Homo sapiens: one gene and its partners. The protein of the gene in region 3 interacts with the protein of the main gene of each other region in a pairwise test. Each region holds a gene or a part of one and is shown on either strand. Other genes may lie near its edges.

Region 1 (7,028 bases), on a different chromosome or scaffold from region 3:
TCCATAACTGGGTGTGTAGTATGAGTAGAATGAATTCAGTGCTAGCCTCTTGCTGGAGAGGGACAAGTGCAGGTTTAGAATTACAGCTTATGTTAGAAGGTTCTCTTCTCATGATACCTTCATGTTAGAAGAAAGAGGACAGAGGCAGAGCTGATGGAATCTCATAAAATAACAGCTAATGCCGTGTGTCAGGCACTATGCTTAACAAGTATCTGTTTAACATGTGTAAATGCTCTTTAGCTCTTGCTTTTCTATAATATAAAACAGTCCTGGAGTCCTGTTCTTCCCCTTCCTTTCTCTCGTGTCCTTTGACTGTCTTTTGCAGCCTCTGGCCTTTCTCATTATCTACTACAGCTTGCTACCTGACTCATCAAAGGCACATGGGTGTTGCAAGAGAGGATGGTATCCTGTGTTTATACCATTAAACTTGCTATTATAACAGGAGCTATAAAGTGAAAAAATAGAGACAAGAAATAAAGCAGAGATTTGTCATCCATGAGCTTGGGGCTATTGATAATTATGAAGAGAGGAGATATTAAGTATTCTGAACAGTAACTTGATATAGTTGAGAATGCTGGACTTGAGTTCAAAAGACCTAGGTCTAGGTCTTGGATCTGTCAGCATTAGCTGTATGGTCAAGTCAACCCTTTTTGAGCTTCAGTTTTTTCATCTGACAGGTGGGAAAAACATCTCTCTTTCCTACCAAAAATAAGTTGTGGATATCAAATGAGACAGTGTGCTTAAAACTTCCTTGTGAATGATAAAATTTTATGTAAACATAAGCTGTTTGATGGATTAGAAATGGATATGAAGAAGAAAAATATGGTTTAAAATTGTTAGTAAAATTTCATTAAAATTTGGACACGTAAACTTAACATAGTTGGCTTTCTCCTTATAGGGCCCTATGTTAATTTTTTTTCTAACTCACTAGGTTGCTGACCCTGAGTAATCATGTCTGTCTCTTCATTTTATAATGCTCTAACCTTCAGCTTCTAGGAGCCTGTAAAGATGGTTTTTGCTGTCACAAAGCCAGGTCCTAAAAGGCAGATTTGAATCTCACTTGAAAAAATGCAGTTTCACACATTAAAGGCAAGGAGAATTTTTGGCTATTGGTATAAAACAAAGATCACTGCCCAAAGTGAAAGAAATATTAAAGAAAAGCTTCCATGGCAGTGACTTCCTGTGGAAAACTTGATCCGACCTTCAACTGCTGGATAAATTACTTTCATTTTGGAGATATATGTAGAAACCACGTTGATATCTTGGTCACCTAGAAAAACATATACATTATTTTAACTACAGAAAAGGTAATTATCAATCAACAGTAAGGTAGTCCTTTGTAATTATAAAAGGGAAGCAATTTCATAAGCAGGGGTAAAGTGTCACAGAAGACAAGAACGCTAGTGATCATAAGTACAAAGAATTTGATTGCTTTTTCATGCTCCAGATGTAAAATGTGTCTGTTGTTCAATATTGGGTAATTGGGGGAAGTAGAGTTGCCTCAGCTCTGTGATGACTCTAGAAAGAGGTCATTGACATCATAGCCTTTGAACCACTCCAGAACAAGGGCATTAGGGAACTGGGTCAAGAGCAATTAGTTGAGAGATAAAACTGGCTTCCTTTTGTTTGCCTGCCCAATAATTATTTTCATGTAATTGATGATGGGACTTGGGGGATTTCCTTTACCAAAGAGAGGAGAGGATAAATGCTAATTGCCTATAGCTACAACAAACCCATGTTTGTTGGGAACCCATGTTCTGTTGGGAACCCAACAGAATTTTATTTTAAAAATATCACTCCAGTACTTAAGAACCCTTCTCTCTTCAGTGGTTTTCACCTCTGGGTGTACACTAGAATCACTGAAAAAGAGTTTAGCCCCAATCCAGTTAACTTAGAATCTCTTAAGAGCTGCGGCCGAGCCATTGGTATTTAATTTAAAATGCTCCTGAAGTGATTCTAATGTATAACCAGTGTTGAGAACGCTTAGGTCCAGGGCTTCCTTAGCCTTCTGCATGAGCTCCTCTCTCTAACATCCTTCAGTCTAGGCTTGAGTGGTGGACAGCTGATGGCTATCAGCCTCTTTGTCTCATGGGGCTTTTACGCCTGCCCTTCCATCTTCTGTCACGGAAGGGACAGAAGAAGCCAGCACCTTTCCTCCCAGGAAGGGCTGCCTCCTTTGGTCTGGTCCTGCCCTCCACGCTCCTTGGAATAAGTAGCTAAAATGACAGGTCCAGCATGATAAGACTGAGGAAGATCCTGGTGGAACTACCCAGAGATGCCAAGAAGCTGCTTGTGTGTCTTGTAAGCATGCTGGTCTCTGCCCTAGGAAGAGGAAGGGGAAGTGTGTCCTATGTCAGTGGTCTGTATGCACATAATGTGACTCTCAACAGAATTTCTAAAAGTGAGGCTGGCATATAATGTCCCTCAATGCTGCCAGAAGTACCAACTGACATCAAGTATGGTTATTCCTATGATTTGTACCACCAACCCACTGTGCTGAAAGGGCGGCGCTCACCCCATCCACTTCTACCTGACTGATTCACACAGAAACTTCTTCAAGAAAGAAAATTTAAATGATTTAATGTGATGGTTTTCCATATCCTAAAATTCCAGAGGTGTGATATTTCTGTTAATGCAAAACTCACTTATATTTCACAATTTAAATAGCTGCTTAGATGTAGTTAAAAGAATTTTAAAACATTTTTGATTTACAAATGTTTTGTCTCTGGGGTTGGATGAAGGCATGTGTGTGCTCGGGGATTGACAGGGTACATATTCCTCTCTGCTGTGCTGTGCTGCTGCTTTCCAACAAGCAAAGCAGGAGGGAGTCAGCAATACAGGGAGTCACTTTGCCCTCCTGGCACCACTAGTAGCTCCCCTTCTTGGCCCAATTTTGTTGTTCTTTAGAGAAAGGAAGAGACAGTCATGCTTACCAGAGTCATGTCTTAATAATTCATCTTTTATCATCTGGAACCCATCTCCACCATTGGCCAGGAAGTTTGGGAGGATCACCTTATATACCTCGTCCATTTTGAGAGGGTCATAACTGGGCACTCGACACTTGGTGCAAAGAACATCTAATTTGACTACTCTGTCTCCAGGTTTTCGGGAAAGATCATACACCACATGGATTCCTAGAAAAGAAATGAATCTGTTTTCACCAGATCCAAAGGGAGATTTCTGTTTCCTAAGGAATTTTGGCCAAACTCTACAATTGGGGCATGGGGCTGTGGTTTTTCCTTTGGTTTAAACCTGAGTGAAATTTTGTCAAGAGAATTGTGACATTGCAGCCACCCTTTATCCTTGAGTCCTTACAGGACATATGAGAACCACTGGAAGGAAAACCAGCTCTGGACCAGAATAGGCAAAGGGTGACTCTACATGGACAAAACCACATCTTTTTCTGTTTTTCCCTTAAAATGCTGAATTGGTCTACTAAATTGATTCAATGGCCTTAGAAAGTGAGAAACAGATCAGAGGCAGAGAGCATTTTACAATTTTGAAGACCATTAAATGGTAATCATTTGGGATTTGGTGACTTCCACAAGGCATAGAGCTATGCAGTGCTTTGCTAGAGCATCAGAAAACTGCTTTTCCCTCAACTCCCTTCTGGGAAAATGGAGGATGTTTGGGTTGCCCCATAGGCATTAGGACAGGGCCCCACTGCCTTCTGTAGCCCTTCAGTCTCAACAGCAATGTGTTCTGCAGAGGAAAACTCAGGAAAGCAATTCTATCTGTCAAGCGGGACCACAACCTAAGGTTAAAAAAATGAGGCCAGATTATGATTTCCAGGTAAAATAAGATTGCTTTTAAAGGATTAATTCACTGGACTGTGGAATTATTAACAAAAGTGTTTCAGAAGCCCTTGGCAATTTAGGAAGCATTTATTTCCATTCAACTTTCACTGCAGTCCATGAGATAAACAGGAAAGGTTTTCTCCCTGTGCCCAGAGGGGTTGAGAACTTGCCCCAGGTCACAGTGGGACTAGAACCAGGTGTTCAGGTATGTCTGTGCAGTAGGCTGCTCCTTCCAGGAATCATCCTGGTTAATACAGATTGGACAGCATTCCTTTAAATCTTGGCATGGTTCCAGGCAACGATGAGTAGAACAGAGGAGAGGATTTAAAAAAAAAATAATTGAATGCTTAAATAAGATTTTATTAGAAACTAGACCTCAAAGCAGGTGACCTGCTTAGAGGGCCCATCTGATGTCCAAATCAGACTTGGCAAATACTGCTTATTGCCAGGGCTTTGGGGCTTTGGGGCTTTGACCCCAACCTAATCTTAGTGGCTCTGAGAGTCCACAGCCATTAAAGGGTAAGGTATTGGTGTTGGGTCGGGAAAAATCCAAACCAGTTTGACCACAGGAATTTTGGTGAAGGGGAAGCTGAGCCAACCAGCAGGAAATGCCATGTCACTTTGGATGGGCCAGCCCTACAGGATGGGTGACTTACCGCCCACCTGCAGGAACTCTCCAGTGGACTGGCCGTAGCGGTGCACGCTATGCTCAAAGGCCTTCTTCAGGGTGGAACCTTTTAACTGGACTAGGTCAAATGTGCCTCCAAAGGGCAATACAGCAGCCAGGTTCTCCCAGGTAATTGTGCCTGAGGGTAGTCACAGATGAGGCAAGAAGGAAAATAGCTTGAGAAAATGCTTACACCATGACCAGTTTCCCTCAGCGCTGGGGGAAGAAATGAGGGGGACATGGGAAGCTTATAGAGCATCATTAGCTATGTCTAAGTGGTTCCTGACACTGAGGAAGGGAATGAGTTTAGGAGGCCTCTGGCCCTGCACTCCACCACTGGGCAAGATGGCGGGAGCTCACAAATGGCTGTGCCTCAGAAGTTCACCATGCTCAGTCTTAGATCTGCTAGCTTGGGGCTGGATCTCCAGTAGTTTGTTTTGCATTGTTCCGTTCCTCCAGACAAACAATGTGCCCCTGCAACCTGTCCCTGTTGTCTGACAATGGGATGCGTTTGGGGCCTTATACTGATACTGATTGGTTTTCACAGTAAATCAGGGAGGGCTACAAGAGTGTCTTGAGTATTTGTGTAGTTGATTTGTTTTGCCATATGATATAATCTTGGATATCTGTAAATATACTAAGGTAACATTTTAATCCAGTGGTATGTCTTTTTCAGGACAGAAGATTGGTGATTTTGTCTCTTTTCAGATGCCAAGGTGGTGACTGTTGTTATTTTGCATAAATCAGAAACAACTAGTATAGCTTTGTAAGTCAGAAATTCAGACCAAGTTTGAGTTCCACTAACCTTACCTGCAGCTTCTGTGTGTGAATACATATAAGAACACACAAGCTTGTGTGTGTCCTTCAGGCTAGGTTTTAGACTTTAATAATGGCTAACCCTAATTTAAAGGACTGACATTCTGGTACATGGCTGGCAGCAGAGATGAACTGAGGCTGCACATGGGTGTGTTCAGGGCAAGAACCATAACAGAAAAGGAGATCAGAGAGAGAACATGACACACTGAGGAGCTGGGCCTGGGAGCATACCATTGTTGCGTTCATCAATGGGCGACCGGATACCACCTCCATTTAAAATGCACATGGATACGTGGTTCCAGAACATTTCATCCGTGTGTCTCAGGTTGTTGTTAATCTGCAACAGTAGCACAGATTTACACTAGTTACTCTGGCTCTTCTTCCTTAGGATCAGCTCCAGGAATCTGGTTAGCTCTAGTGAGGAAATAAAGCTGCTTTTCACCTGCTGCTGTGTTCCCAGGGATCTCTCAACTATAATTAGAACTAATTTTATGCTCCCAGAAGTAAAAATATACTGTTACCAGTCCATGTCAAACTCTTATTTCCCCCTCCTAAAACTCCCATACTGTCAGGCCAGGTGGCCTTAGCAAAATGGTCTCTCGGTTGTAGCCCTGGTGTCGGGACTGGGCCTCCCATGCAAGGTGGCCTGCAGAGTCACTCCTGCACAGGCTTCTCCAGGGCAGGCCATGCCCTCTGCCTGATTCTGAGGGCTTGGCCCTAGAGCCTGCTCAACACCAGACCTCATGCCAAAGAGAACCTGGCCTCCACGTCTATGTCTGCAGCTGATTCCCAAGTTGGCAATTTTGGAAAGACAGAGACAGCCTTTTGAAGCTGGGGAGAATCACATCCATTCTTACTTTTATTTTACAAAATATATGTTTAGTTATAAGAAATAAAATGAATATATTCTCATTTAGGAGACAAAAAGCCGAAAAAAAAAAAAAAAAAAGGCCAGGCATAGTGGCTCACACCTGTAAATCCCAGCACTTTGGGAGGCTGTGGCAGGTGGATCACCTAAGGTCAGGAGTTCGAGACCAGTCTAGCCAACATGGTGAAACCCCGTCTCTACTAAAGATACAAAAATTAGCTGGGTGTGGTAGTGGACACCTCTAATCCCAGCTACTTGGGAGGCTGAAGCAGGAGAATCGCTTGAACCCAAGGGACGGAGGTTGCAGTGAGCTGAGATCATGCCACTGCACTCCAGCCTGGGCGACAGAGCAAGACTCAGTCTCAATAAATAAATAAATTAATTAATTAAATAAATAAATAAATAAAAAGCAAAAGCTCTCCTTTGTCCTAGCCTCTTTAACAGAGTGGATAAGCACTGCCAACAGCCTGGGTTGTTTCCCTCCAGACTTCTCTTAACATTTATATACCAGCTTCTCCTTAACTACTTCTCTGGCATTGACTGCATGATGCTGAGGAGACATCATGAGTCTGGTCTTGGCATGAGCATGATTGTTGTCATTTACACGGCAAACATTTATCGAGTGCAGTTGTATCCTGGGCACTGGGCAATGCATGCCAAGCACTGACAGAAATGACTTCCCTGGGTGCAGGCTGTGAGCCCATGGAAGTAGTAGTCCGACATAGGAGACCTTGGCTCAGTAAGGCCCCCAGAGAGCTACCATGGCCATTCCGCCTGGTGACAAGTAGACGGGCTTGTTCTTCATACCTGGTCTTGCTCAGCCATAGGACTTGTTATTACCATTAAAACTGTGTGTTGTCTTTCTGTGCCTGTGAAAGAG
Region 2 (7,028 bases), on a different chromosome or scaffold from region 3:
AGTGCATTGCCTAACTTGGATTTTCCCCAATCTCACAGGTAAGAAAGGTATTTCCATTATTTTATTTTATTTTGCATTTGTCTTTTTATGCATATCCTTGTATGTTTAAAGACCATTTGCATTCTATTTTCTGTTAACTGTCTGTTCACATCCTTTTGCCTATTCTTCGGGTTCTTCTCATAGTTTAAAATTCTTCATATATAGGGCTACAATTAGCCCTCTGTGATAAATGCTGCAAATATTTTCAGCTATCCAAAAAAATCTTTTTTCTTCTCTGTCACCCAGGCTGGAGTGCAGTGGCTTACTGCATCCTCAAACTCCTGGGCTCACAGTCCTCCTACCTCAGCCTCCCAAGTAGGTGGAACCCAGGCCAGGTACTTAATTTTTTTTTTTTTTTTTTTTTGGTAGAGCCAGTCCTACTAGGTTGCCCAGGTTGGTTTTGAATTCCTGGTCTCAAGCAGTCCTTCTGCCTCAGCCTCCCAAAATGCTGGGATTACAGCCATGAGCCATTCCATCTGGCTGAAAATTCTTCTATAGACTTCTCTTTTTATTGCTTCTGAATTTTCAGTCCTAGGAAAGTTTTTCTCACTGTCAGATTATACAATAATTCATCTATGTTTTCTTCTAGTTAGAAAGAGGGTTTCATTTTAAAAATTGGGTCTTTGTTCTATTCAGATTTTATCCTGTGTATCCTGTGAGAAATCGATTCAATTTTATTTTTTTTTCCAAATGGTTAACCACACTTCTCTCAACACCATTTTTAAAGCCTTTTTCTCTGAATGAGATGCTTTATCATGTACTAAATTCCTAGACTTTCTCATATTGTAAACATTATGTTATAATATTTAATAGGGTTATCCCTCCTTCCACATTGTTCTTTTCTAGGCATCTTCTGGCTATTTTTGTTTATTCTTTCCAGTACTTCTTGTTTTATTGAAATCGCGTATGGCCCTTTAAGTATAAATATATATTACATATATGAATGAAGACATTTCAAAAGTGTTCTGCAAATCATATTCTAAAACCAACCTTAGGCAAGGCTTTTTTTTTTTTGGAAAATCAGAAGAAAAAAGAAGAAAACAGAAGTCATCTTAAGGGAATGCATGGACCCAGGTAAAGCCATGTATGGCGGCCACAACACCCAGAGTAGCCTTCCCTAAGAACAACAGCAGCATTTACTGAACATTTGCTGGATCCACAGTCCTGTAGTTAACTATTATACAGAGACTGGTCCATACAAAAGACTCAAGAAACTATACAGCTGTCTTGTTGTGACTATCACAGGAAAATTTATTCTGTAAAATAAAAGTATGCTGTGCATAACAAAGATCAAATGCTGTACTAGATTTTTAAGAAAACATTTAGCACCCACTATATTTTTTTAAATGTGAGGATTGTGAACTTCCCTTCCAGCTCAATCTTCACAAAATTACATATACTATACCTCAGGGTAAAATCTAACTTTAAAAAGAGTTACAACATCTTTCAAATAAAGCAAATTCAGTCTGTAGGAAAATAAATTATCACTTGATATTGGGGTATATCTTTCTTCAATCACTTGGCACATCTGCGGCCAGAAACTCCATTCACTAAGTAAACGAAGGAACTTCTTCCTTCCAAGGGCTGGGACCAAATTTCCTGTGCAAAAACCTTCCTGTATAAGTGAAACCTGTCATTCTCCCAGCAAAGGATAATTGAGATTAGAGAGTGTGTAAAACAAAAATACAAAAATATTACCCAAATTATTTGTACCACATACAGGTTTGAAACCTGGCCATCCAAAATACTAACTAAAAAGACTATTATTGTTCTTAAGGTAGAGAAATCAGACAACACATCTTGGCGCTCATGTTGCTTCCTGCACTAACCTAGTTAATCTGACAAGTGAGACAAATTGTTCATTGGGAAGATGTTTATATCATGCTTCAGTATAATTTGTCTATTCTTTTATAGGGGAGAAATGTTGAAAATAGAACATTCAGTCTTTCTGGCAGTTAATCAACAGTGACACAACCTTACATTTCCTAACAACTACAAATTCCCTAATTAACCATTTTAAAAATGCAATAACAAAACCATTAAACCACTATTTGCTCTAGTTCACTGTTTTTATTTACATAGCTACCTTTCTCCTAGACAAGCAACGTTAGCGAAAGATGCCTTCTTGATGACAATCCTATTCAATTTTTATTTATTTTTTTGGTGAAGGGTTTTCTCAGCAGCCAGTTACCACATGGAGCATTTCACAGTTTCAAAGAAGTTTTCCTCATTTTAAAACTGCAAGAAAATGCTACACTTGATGGTAGTTCCTAAAAAAATAGTTCAATCAACCTTCTAGAATTTTTGTAATATAACTTCAAGTATGTAATGATTTAATTAACACAATACTCTTAATAAACAACAGCAACAACAAACCCAAGTGCTAGCTCATTTCTGGTGCCATGAGACATAATAGCACCACTTGTTTTTCTATTTTAGTGGTTAAAATGTATGCAATTTTAGCACCCATCTACAAAAGTTAGATGTTAATAAAAATATGGTATTACTTGGCTTACTAGGAAGTAACAGTCTTAATATCCCCTTAAGAGAAGAAATCTGTTTCATTTGCTGCATCCTGGGTCATGGAAAAGAATAGTATGAAAGGGGGAAACAAAGAACAGCCTTTTAGGTAAGGCTTTTCAGTACCTGAATCACTGAAAGTATTGAAGTCATGTTCCTTGGAAGAGTAGAATTATACCACACATAGGAGGTTCCAAGGAGTTATGTTGTTATACACTGTATGTCAGGATAGACCACATTTAAAATGCTGAACATGGCTTAGCAGCCTTAAATATAAAAAACAGGTAAACTAGAAAAAGTAATGATAGTGATCAACTCCCGTCCTCTAACCAAAAATCTGCCTTGTCACTCCGTTTCAAAAACAAAGTGAAATATTCTAAACAACTGACAAATTTTTACATAAAAACACATTGAATTTAGATTAATATCAGTTATCAAGACACAATAAATACATGATGGGGAAGACAAAGAAAATAAAGTGCACCTTTACAGTGTAAGAGACTCAGAAATCACTTCCTAAATTGGTAATATAGATTGCAATATAAAAATAACTAGCAAAGTTAGATTAAAAAATTTTCAGCTGAAAAATTACAGTTTTTCAGTACATCAGAGGGACAAATAACCTTTTATTTAAAGGTATTATATTTAGAGACTTGTATATTTCAATTTTGTGTAGGAGAAAGGAAAGCCATTCTTCTAGAAGGCACTAACTGGTTTAAATGTGTGAGTGAATTCCTAAAGAAAACATGTGCAAAGTATAGTCAAGAAGGCTGCCTGGTTGTGTGTTGTATTCACTACTCTTCATCACAGACTATGAATTATTGCTGAACAACTATATCAGTCACCAGGTTTTCCCATCAGAGCTTCAGTGTGTTCAGTCCACAGTGTCGCAGATCTCCTTTACTTTCTGGTTGAATTCTTCTGGTTGATCTGCATATACATAATGTCCTGCCCCAAGAATAGCCTGGATAAGGAAAAGCATTCAGACAGTTAGTGAGTAAAAGCATTTAATAAAACAGAATGATATATAAGCAAAGACACTTAGTAATAAAAGTGAGAGCCACTGTATTTAAATAAAACACGTGATTAAAAAATAACAATAATCTATAGTAACTATTAAGTATATCCATTAAAAGGATCTGAGAATAGAAAAATCTACTGAATCTCAATAAAATTTTAATATGCAAAAAACACTAAATTGACCACTAATAAAAGTGCCAACAGAGAAACTGAAAAAAGTGAGAGTGTGCTGCCTTGTGAGGTGGGAATTACTTGAAGTGCTACTGGACCAATCCCTCTGTCCATCTCTCCTAATGCTGTGGCTCTAGGGACAGGAAAAGTCATTCAGAAAGGTAGTTCACGGTTTGGACATGAAGATGTGTGCAGGCCAAACCCTGCACCCATCACAGGTGGTATCACGTCCCCGACTGAGGCTGCAGGTATGGCTCAGATGACCTGCAACACGAGGATGACCTAAAACCTCTTTTAAGGGAGATAATAAAACGGACCTCACCTATACCTAAAAACCCAAATCAAGCCACACACTTACTATTGTCTTCACATATGAATGTGGTCGTAAGGACTGGATGCTGGTGCCAGAATTGCCATCTATGCAGGATCGGGCGCCAAAGATCACTGAAACTGGAATGTCAGGGTGCATTTTACCAATTCGCTGGAGCATTGGCCTTTTTGCCCATCCATAAGGAATAGTCATATTCTTGAAAGCTGTCTCACCACTTTAACGGCAAGGAGAAAATCACGATGTATGATTTTTGGGAATGAGTATGCATTGCACTGTCACTTCTATCAAAACACATTCATATTTAGCTTTTCCAGCACCTAAGAAAAACCTCAGCTTAAATAGAAAATAATTTATGAGACAGTGTAAGGAACAAATCTCACAGATCACTGTTAGATAAGCAAGGCTGTTGTATACTCCAGCTGATTTTTAAAAAAGTTTTCTTGTAAACCAAAATGTACAACCCTAATTTTCTATCATTAAATTATTTATTGTGGAGATAGTTAAAAATATGTTTTTTTGTCCTTATTTAAACTGATGTAGAAGGTAGCTTATCCCCAGGTTCATGGCACCAGCGTTTCACCTGCAATGCTAAAACCATTACCAAGTTAAGAAGAAACTCAGACAATATATTCTTGCAAGCTCTCAGGATAGGTCTATCTTGCTGTCACTTCTGCTATTCATTTTTTTTTTTTGTTTTTTTTGTTTTTTTTGAGATGGAGTCTAGCTCTGTTGCCTAGGCTGGAGTGCAGCTGCACGCACAGTCTCAGCTCACTGCAGCCTCTGCCTCCCGGGTTCAAGCAATTCTCCTGCCTCAGCCTCCTGAGTAGCTGGGATTACAGGCACGCACCACCATGCCCAGCTAATTTTTGTATTTTCAGTAGAGACGGGGTTTCACCATGTTGGTCAGGCTGGTCTCAAACTCCTGACCTTGTGATCTGCCCGCCTCGGCCTCCCAAAGTGCTGGGATTACAGGCGTGAGTACCACGCCTGGTCCCTTCTGCTATTCTTACAAAACCAGACATCATTCTAACTTGCCTTTTATGAAGAATTCAAGTCTCACTACAATCAAAGTAACAAACTAGGACTACACGAACACATGTAATCATGAAATAAGAGTACGTGAAGAGTAAAACTTACGCCATGCAGGAAAATGAATGATGTTCCCGGGGAAGACCCCTAAAAAAAACTGTTGGAAGTGTGTAGACCTAATCCACCAAACCTGACTGCCTAGCAATTCACAAAACCTCAATCTCTTGAAGACCTTGAACCTCTAGCCTCCCTCACTCTTGGCAGAGAACCTCTAACCTACTTTATTAAAAAGACTGAGGCTACAGCTACCTATAAATAGCTACCATGGCCTCAATCTTTTTAATAAAGTAGGTGTACATATTTTCTGCCAAAAGTGAGGGAGGAAATAAAAGAGAGGGAGGCTGTCTCTGCATCTCGCCTCTTAGCCTTTCATCCAAACCTCAGTCTTAGAAAGGATGAGATACCACTTCTCTGTCTTAAAGTGTGCTCCATAGTTCACCTATACAGAATCACCAGAGTATTTGTTAGAGATGCAGCCCAGAAATGCTAATATTAGTCTTAGAAACAAACCTCAGGAGTCACATTTCAACAAGCACCCCCAATAATTCCAGTACACAACATAGCATGAGAACTGCAGCTCTCATCTTTGCACTCTATTCTTGATGCTCTTCCTAGAAACTCTAGGGCCTTATCATTCGGCCTCCTCCTAGCCCCCCACTATCTTCAGGCTCTGTTTTCTCCACTGGTACTTTTCACCCAACATCCATAAGTCATATTTTTAAAACATACATTTGGCCCTCTTGCTCCCTCTGCTACTATGCCCCATTCTCTCTCTCTCCTTCTAATCACTGTCAAAATACATGCAGAATCCCTCACTTACTCCTCACCCTCTGCAGCTGCATTTCTAATGCTGACCTACAGATCTTTAGAGTTGTTCAGGAGTACAATCATCAAATGAACTTGAAAAATACACATAGCATCTCCCATTCACTTGGGAGATTCAATACCCTTCGGTATAGTAAAGGTTCTAAGAGGATTCATAGTATAGACAATCATTTACTTTTGTTTAATCCAGCACCCTTTTTTCTTTTTTTGAAACATTCATACTCAGTTTGGGAAATACTTCTTTATGTGAAATTCTTCAACTCTCAACTCAAACCATCTCTTGGAGATGCCCAAGACCAAGACTTTCTCAACATGTTCATGAGAACTTTGAGGGAAGAGTGAACATGTTACTTCTTAATCCCCCATCAGAACTCAGCACAATGTTTTATACAGTGGGTACTCTAAGAATAGATGAGTAAAATAAAATGTATTAGACACTTGTCCTTTTAAATTCAGTCATTTAACTACTGATACAAATCTTCTGGACCACTGATATATTTTAAACAAAGGCCGGGCACGGTGGCTCACACCTGTAATCCCAACATTTTGGGAGGCAGAGGCGGGCAGATGACCTGGGGTCAGAAGTTCAAGACCAGCCTGACCAACATGGAGAAACCCCGTCTCTACTAAAAATACAAAATAATTAGCCGGGCGTGGTGGCACATGCCTGTAATCCCAGCTACTCAGGAGGCTGAAGCAGGAGAATTGCTTGAACCCAGGACGCGGAGGTTGTGGTGAGCCAAGATCGCACCATTGCCCTCCAGCCTGGGTGACAAGAGCGAAACCCCGTATTGAATGAATAAATAAATAAATAAATAGTTTTAAAAAAAATAGTCTAAAACACACACAAACACACACACACACACACACACACACACACACACAGAGTGAATTGAGAATCCTAACCCTCACCTTGGAGTCTGCACATTACAGTGGTAGATGTATTCTGTCACAGTATCGTCTTCGAACATTGAAGAATACTTTCGTTTGAAATCAGGCCTTAAACGCTGCACTAGACTTAAACCTATTTAAC
Region 3 (7,028 bases):
ATCTCAGCTCACTGCAAGCTCCGCCTCCCAGGTTCATGCCATTCTCCTGCCTCAGCCTCCTGAGTAGCTGGGACTACAGGCACCCACCACCACGCCCGGCTAATTTTTTTGTATTTTTAGTAGAGACGGGGTTTCACCATGTTAGCCAGGATGGTCTCGATCTCCTGACCCTGTGATCCGCCTGCCTCGGCCTCCCAAAGTGCTGGGATTACAGGCGTGAGCCACCGCGCCTGGCCTGGACAAATATTTCAAAGCAAAGGAATTTACCTGGGATGAAGACAGTTTTTTTTTTTTTTTGAGATAGTGTTTCATTCTTGTTGCCCATGCTGGCGTGCAATGGCACGATCTCAGCTCACTGCAACCTCTGCCTCCAGGTTCAAGTGATTCTCCTACCTTAGCCTTCCGAGTAGCTGGGATTACAGGTGTCCATCACCGCGCCTGGCTCATTTTTGTATTTTTGGTAGAGATGGAGTTTCACCATGTTGGCCAGGCTGGTCTTGAACTCCTGACCACAGGTGATCCTCCTGCCTTGGCCTCCCAAAGTGCTGGGATTATAGGTGTGAGCCACCCAGCCCGGCGAGAGACCTTGACAAAAGGGTCAGTTCACCAAGAAGATATTCAATGTGTATACAACTAACAACAGAGCTTCAAATAAATAAATAGACATAATGTATTCACAGGTCAGAAGACTCACCATGGTAAAGGTCAATTCTCTCCAAACACATTTATAGAGTTAATGCAATATAAATCAAAATCCCAGCAGGATTTTTTTTTTTTTTTTGTGGATACAGATGAGCTGATGCTACAATTTACATGGAAGGGTCAAGGAACCAGACTAGCTAAAACAATTTTGGAAAAGAATGAGGTTGGAAGAATCACACTGCCTGATTTTAAGATTTACTATAAAGCTATTAATAATCAAGACAGTGTGGTACTGATGAAGAAACAGGCACACAAATCAAGAGAATATAATGGAGAATCCAGAAATACAGTCACAAAAAATATGGCTATTTGATTTTTGAAAAAGGTGCAAAAGAATTTCAATGAAGAAAGCAACTCACCATAACCAAAGCTGGGGATACTATGGTGAAAAAAATCCAAGACTAGATACAAATGACCAGCGAAACAGGAATTGGTGGGTGTAGTTGGATACTAACTATGATACATACTGATGCAACACACAATGTATTTATTCAGGACAAAGTTTCTAAACTAACAGGTCACACCAGTAAGGAAGACTTCTGTTCTGGATTAATCTGGTAAAAATTTAATCTTTTCATTTACGGTCATCAAAAAGACTCCAAATGGGAAACAGACCACTTTTATTATTTCATGTTAATTTTGGCCATGTGTCAAAATTAACTTCTAGGAAAAGTAAAAAATCAAACAGTGGCCGGCTGCCGTGGCTCACGCTTGTAATCCCAGCACTTTGGGAGGCCGAGGTGGGTGGATTACGTGAGGTCAGGAGTTCAAGACCAGCCTGGCCAACATGGTGAAACCCCGTCTCTACTAAAAATACAAAAATTAGCTGGGTGTGGTGGCGCATGCCTATAATCCTAGCTACTCGACAGGCTGAAGCAGGAGAATCGCTTGAGCCCAGGAGGCGGAGTTTGTAGTGAGCGGAGATTGCACCATTGCACTCCAGCCTGGATGACAGAGTAAGACCCCGTCTCAAAAAAAAAAAAAAAAAAAAATCAAACAGTAATTAATGCTTCAGTTTAATCCAAGGCTAGGTCTAAAATGCCATTAAACAGAAACATATCAATTCTTTGATGAAAAATATGCAGAAAGAGCAAAGGACCAATAGATGATTTCAAAATATTTAACAATAATATGATTATTTTTATTATGATTCAAAAAACCTAACAAATTAACTTTCTTTGAAGAGACTGGCAATTTAGCTTCACCACAGCTAGGCTATATGCGACACTGCTATTACAACACACAGCTTTTCAAGTCCTTGCTTTAAACACCAATTAGAAAACCCAGAAAGGGAGAAGGAAAGGGTGATAAAAAATAAAAATTCTGAAAGTTTGTAGTCAGAGGCAACACAAGAAATAGAATGAAAAAGAATTCTTATAGGCTATGTATCTTAATGTATACAGCAGGATATACACACCCAAGTTTGTACTTAAGTTACAAAGCACCTATGTCCCAACCATGCAACCGAAGAGCTAAACAATCCCAAGGATTCATATCGCTACCTGTGTGTTCTTCCCCTGTTCCGTATGTCTTACCTTCTTCAATCCCTACCCCCATGAGATAACTGCTCTCTTTTTTGTACCATTGGTAAGAAAGAAATATTGGGAACATTTTCAATGGGGAAATTAGTACATACTCACCTTGAGTAGAAAAACTAACGTATCTGTTTCCTATTCATACAGCATGGACGGCAAGCAGCATCCCTACTGCTATGAAATTTTATAATGGTGTCATCACTATTAAAAGTATGAGTTATATTACTCTCGTAAAGCCTTCACACAATTGATTTTTATGTGACCTCACCCTGAAATATTCTATTACCCCAATCAAAATAAGCCTATTTTTTTCAACTACTGAGAATAAAAGTGTTTAAACATACCACAGCATACCACTGCTACTAGAAAATGGCTCAAGAGGATTTACTTATCATCAACTTACCTCATGTAAATTCAATTCTTTTACTTTCTCTTTTAATATAACCTGTAAGACAAAAAAGTATGTTCTTATGCCCATTTAAATCTGTAACTTTAAATATTTCTCATTATATTCTCAAATATTTTTCTTTTGTATATATGGCTCATTTCCCTCATATTCAATATTGAAGGGAATTTCTTTTACAGTTTGAGACAGATCATTTTAGCAACATTTTTTTAACTTGAGCAATGATGCAATATTCTCCTAAAAAAGGAATTTTGGCCGAGCATAGTGGCTCACACCTGTAATCCCAGCACTTTGGGATGCCAAGGCGGGTGGGTCGCCTGAGGTCAGGAGTTTGAGACCAGCCTGGTCAACATAGTGAAACCCTGTCTCTACTAAAAATACAAAAATTAGCTGGATGTGGTGGCGCCTGCCTATAATCCCAGCTACTCGGCAGGCTGAGGCAGGAGATTCACTTGAACCCAGGAGGCGGAAGTTGCAGTGAGCCGAGATCGTGCCATTGCACTCTAGCCTGGGCAACAAGAGCGAAACTCCGTCTCAAAAAAAAAAAAAAAAAGTAAGTCAATCTTAATTTTGAAAGTTTTGACTCCGTGGTGACCAGACAGTAGTTAAAATGAATGCCAAGTGATAAGAAGGAAGTTTACTATTTAAGAAAAAACTCTGAGACTAAATATAGCTTATTAGAGTTATATTTCATCTTAAAGTGAAGAAAATAGGCAAGTAAAATTTGAGGGAAAATCTCTAAATTTTGGTGTCTTACATTCCTGAACTAAAAATGGATTTGAGGGTAAATCCTGTTTTCAGAAATCACACCAGAAGCTACTATAAGGCCTCACAGGGATATACTAAATTTCCTATCCAGTATATTTTAAAGATCAAATTTACTGTATGTCTTGTGACTTGTCTAGTTTTATCAGTCAATTTCACTTAAATGACTGCAAAGGCCAATTTTACTTTCTAGTTAGCCTACATACAAATATCTTGTAAGCTGTCAAGATTATAATACGTGGCCAGGCACGGTAGCTCATGCCTGCAATCCCAGCACTTTGGGAGGCCGAGGTGGGCGGACTGCTTGATCCCAGGAGTTTAAGACCAGCCTAGGCAACATGGCAAAACCCTGTCTCTACAAAAAATACAAAAATTAGCCAGGTGTGGTGGTGCACGCCTGTAATCCCTGCTACTTGGGAGGCTCACCTGAGCCCAGGAGGCAGAGGTTGCAGTGAGCTGAGATTGCACCACTGCACTCCAGCCTGCGTGACAGAAGCGAGACCCTGTCTCAAAACAAAACAAAACAAAACAAAACAGATTATGATAGGAGTCTGGGCAACATGGGGAGACCCCATCTCTACAAAAAGTACAAAAATTAGCCGGGGGTGGTGGTGTGCGCCTGTAGCCCCAGCTATGCATGCCACCACACTCAGCTAAGGTGGGAGGATCACCTGAGCCCAGGGAGGTCAAGGCTGCAGTGAGCTGTGATCATGCCACTGCACTCCAGTCTGGGTGACAGAGACCCCGTCAAAAAAAAAAAAAAAAAAAGATTATGATAGGACTGAGACAAAAAGATTCATTCATTTAGAAAACTAAAATACTCAACTCTGATTTTGGATCCCACATGAGACCTGTAAGAGTGTGGGGTTACCTAAGGACATCAGTATGTCCATCTAGGGAATGTGCCAGTGAGCTCAGATTTCAAACATACATGGACGAAAGATGAACAGAAAGATAAGCAGTCCTGGCTGGGCGCGGTGGCTCACACCTGTAATCCTGGCACTTTGGGAGGCCGAGGTGGGTGGATCACGAGGTCAAGAGATCAAGACCATCCTGGCCAACATGGTGAAATCCTGTCTCTACTAAAAATACAAAAATTAGCTGGGCGTTGTGGCAGATAGATGGCTGTCGTCCCAGCTACTTGGGAGGCTGAGGCAGGAGATCACTTGAACCCGGGAGGCGGAGGTTGCATTGAGCTGAGATCTTGCCATTGCACTCCAGCCTGGCGACAGAGCGAGACTCCGTCTCAAAAACAAACAAAAACAAGATACGCAGTTCTGAAGTGTTACAGTTCCATAACATCAGCGTCAGCAAGGTTAAAGACTCAAATAAGCTGAAGCTCCCCTGTACCCAAGAAGAAAGCTAAGGGTAACAAAAATTAAGAATTTCATGCTTAGAGCCAAAGGAAAATCTAGGCCCCCTGTTTGGAAGAAAAAAATAATTTTACTTGGCCTTTGAGAAAAGATAAGTGTATTAACTTAAAGACAAAATCAGTGAAGGACTAGGTATTGACAGCTATGATCCAAGTTTGCAGACTTCTAGTGGATAATATGAGCTAACATTTAAAGTACAAAAGGGAGTAGATGAGATCACTGTAACACAGCTGGTCGCTCACCTCCGAGGAACTGCTATGTCTTCTAATAAAGAAGGAAGGAAAAATTTCACTTAATGGTATCTCAGAACTCCATTAAGTCGACAGTAACTTTAAGAATTACAAGCTATAGCATTTCTCTTTAGCAATCTGTTGGCTCAAGTTTCCTGTTAAATTATATCATCTGAACTTTCTACAGCTTCAAGTAATGCTTACAAAAGAAGAGAAAAGCTGGGCACAGTGGCTCACGCCTGTAATCCCAGCACTTTGGGAGGCCGAGGCGGGCGGATCACCTGAGGTCCAGAGTTCGAGACCAGCCTGACCAACATGGAGAAACCCCGTCTCTACTAAAAATACAAAATTAGCCAGGCGTGGTGGCGCATGCCTGTAATCCCAGCTACTTGGGAGGCTGAGGCAGGAGAATAGCTTGAACCTGGAAGGCGGAGGTTGCTGTGAGCCGAGATCACGCCATTGCACTCCAGCCTGGGCAACAAGAGCGAAACTCCGTCTCAAAAAAAAAAAAAAGAAGAGAAGAATACTTAAGAAAATGAAGTTGATATATTATACTGCAAATTGGCAGTGAGATGCTAAAATGAACACAAGTAAATTCAGTCCCAGTTTAACGTATGAGTGGAAATCAGAGTTCTCAGTTTTTTGGGGGGAAAAAAAAAATCAAAGCCAATCTGAATTAAATTTCTCACCTGTTTGTAGGCATAAAATTCTTTGTGTGCTTGATGTCTTAGCCTAAAAGACAGAAATTAGTAATGCAATATTGAGATTTCCAACATAGTAACTTGAAGAAAAATAAAAAGTTGCTGATTTTGGTATTAATTTATAACATTTATGGCTCAAATGATATAAATTAGAATCTTTACCCTGAAATACACCCAAATGATGTATCTCTTAACATGCTATGTGAAAGTGCCCAGGGAACCATGAAATGTTACCCAAACGTAAGATGACTCAATTCTTTTTATACCGACAGTCTACTTATTTCAATAATATTTATATTTTTTCTTAATTAGAAAAAATTTAAGTATAACATACATCCAATGAAGTATAAAAACCTTAAGTATACAGCTCAAAATCTTAAAAAATGTACATACCAGGATAACTGTTGCTCATATCAAGACATGGTACATTTCCAGCACACCTGAGCCCTCTAAAATGATCCTTCCTAATCAATATCCATGCCCCAGAGGTAGCACTATCCTGATTTCTAACACTGTAGATTAATTATGCCTGTTTTTGAACTTCATGTAAATGGATCGTTTGGTATATACTCTTTTGTGTTTGGTTTCTTTCAGTCTACAATGCCTTGTGAGATTCTTCCATATTGTTGTAGTAATTGTCTTTCTGACTGACATACAGTATTCCATTGTATGAATATAATACCATTTATTTATCCATTTTACTGCTGATGAATATTTAATTACTTCCTGTTTGAGGCTATTATTAAAGCTGATACACAAATTCTACATGTCTTTTAGTGGACATATATACTCATTTCTGTTAAGTATATACCCGGGAGTAGAACTGCTGGTTCAAAGTACTCACACCGAGGCTGGGCACCGTGGCTCACGCCTGTAATCCTAGCACTTTGGGAGGCCGCGGCAGGCGGATGGCCTGAGGTCAAGAGTTTGAGACCAGCCTGGTCAACAGGGAGAAACCCCGAATCTACTAAAAATACAAAAATTAGCCAGGCATAGTGGCACATGCCTGTAATCCCAGCTACTTGGGAGGCTGAGGCAGGAGAATCACTTGAACCCAGGAGGCGGAGGTTGCAGTGAGCCGAGATCATGCCACTGCACTCCAGCCTGGGTGACATAGTGAGACTTTGTCTTGAAAAAAATAAAAGTACTCACCCTGGCCGGACACAGTGGCTCATGCCTGTAATCCCAGCACTTTGGGAGGCTGAGGCAGGAGGATCGCTTGAGCCCAGGAGTTCGAGACCAGCCTGGGCAATAAGGCAAAACCTCATCTGTACAAAAAATACAATTAGCTGGGCATGGTGGCGTGTGGCCTGTGG

The links. Proteins that work in one complex are often made in the same cells at the same time.
Region 1: the proteins of RNF24 (region 3) and NT5E interact in binary tests that used the Homo sapiens proteins (3 or more experiments, as listed by UniProt).
Region 2: the proteins of RNF24 (region 3) and ABHD5 interact in binary tests that used the Homo sapiens proteins (3 or more experiments, as listed by UniProt).

Annotation. Positions count from the first base shown.
Region 1 is NC_000006.12:85,488,083-85,495,110, reverse strand, and holds part of NT5E (5'-nucleotidase isoform 1 preproprotein), read right to left. Parts: intron 5,618-7,028; coding exon 5,512-5,617; intron 4,604-5,511; coding exon 4,454-4,603; intron 3,135-4,453; coding exon 2,934-3,134; intron 1,271-2,933; coding exon 1,107-1,270; 3' UTR 1-1,106. UniProt on the Homo sapiens protein: Catalyzes the hydrolysis of nucleotide monophosphates, releasing inorganic phosphate and the corresponding nucleoside, with AMP being the preferred substrate. Shows a preference for ribonucleotide monophosphates over their equivalent deoxyribose forms.
Region 2 is NC_000003.12:43,714,938-43,721,965, reverse strand, and holds part of ABHD5 (1-acylglycerol-3-phosphate O-acyltransferase ABHD5), read right to left. Parts: intron 7,020-7,028; coding exon 6,908-7,019; intron 4,296-6,907; coding exon 4,109-4,295; intron 3,524-4,108; coding exon 3,434-3,523; 3' UTR 1-3,433. UniProt on the Homo sapiens protein: Coenzyme A-dependent lysophosphatidic acid acyltransferase that catalyzes the transfer of an acyl group on a lysophosphatidic acid.
Region 3 is NC_000020.11:3,942,537-3,949,564, forward strand, and holds part of RNF24 (RING finger protein 24), read right to left. Parts: intron 5,744-7,028; coding exon 5,701-5,743; intron 2,683-5,700; coding exon 2,641-2,682; intron 1-2,640. UniProt on the Homo sapiens protein: May play a role in TRPCs intracellular trafficking.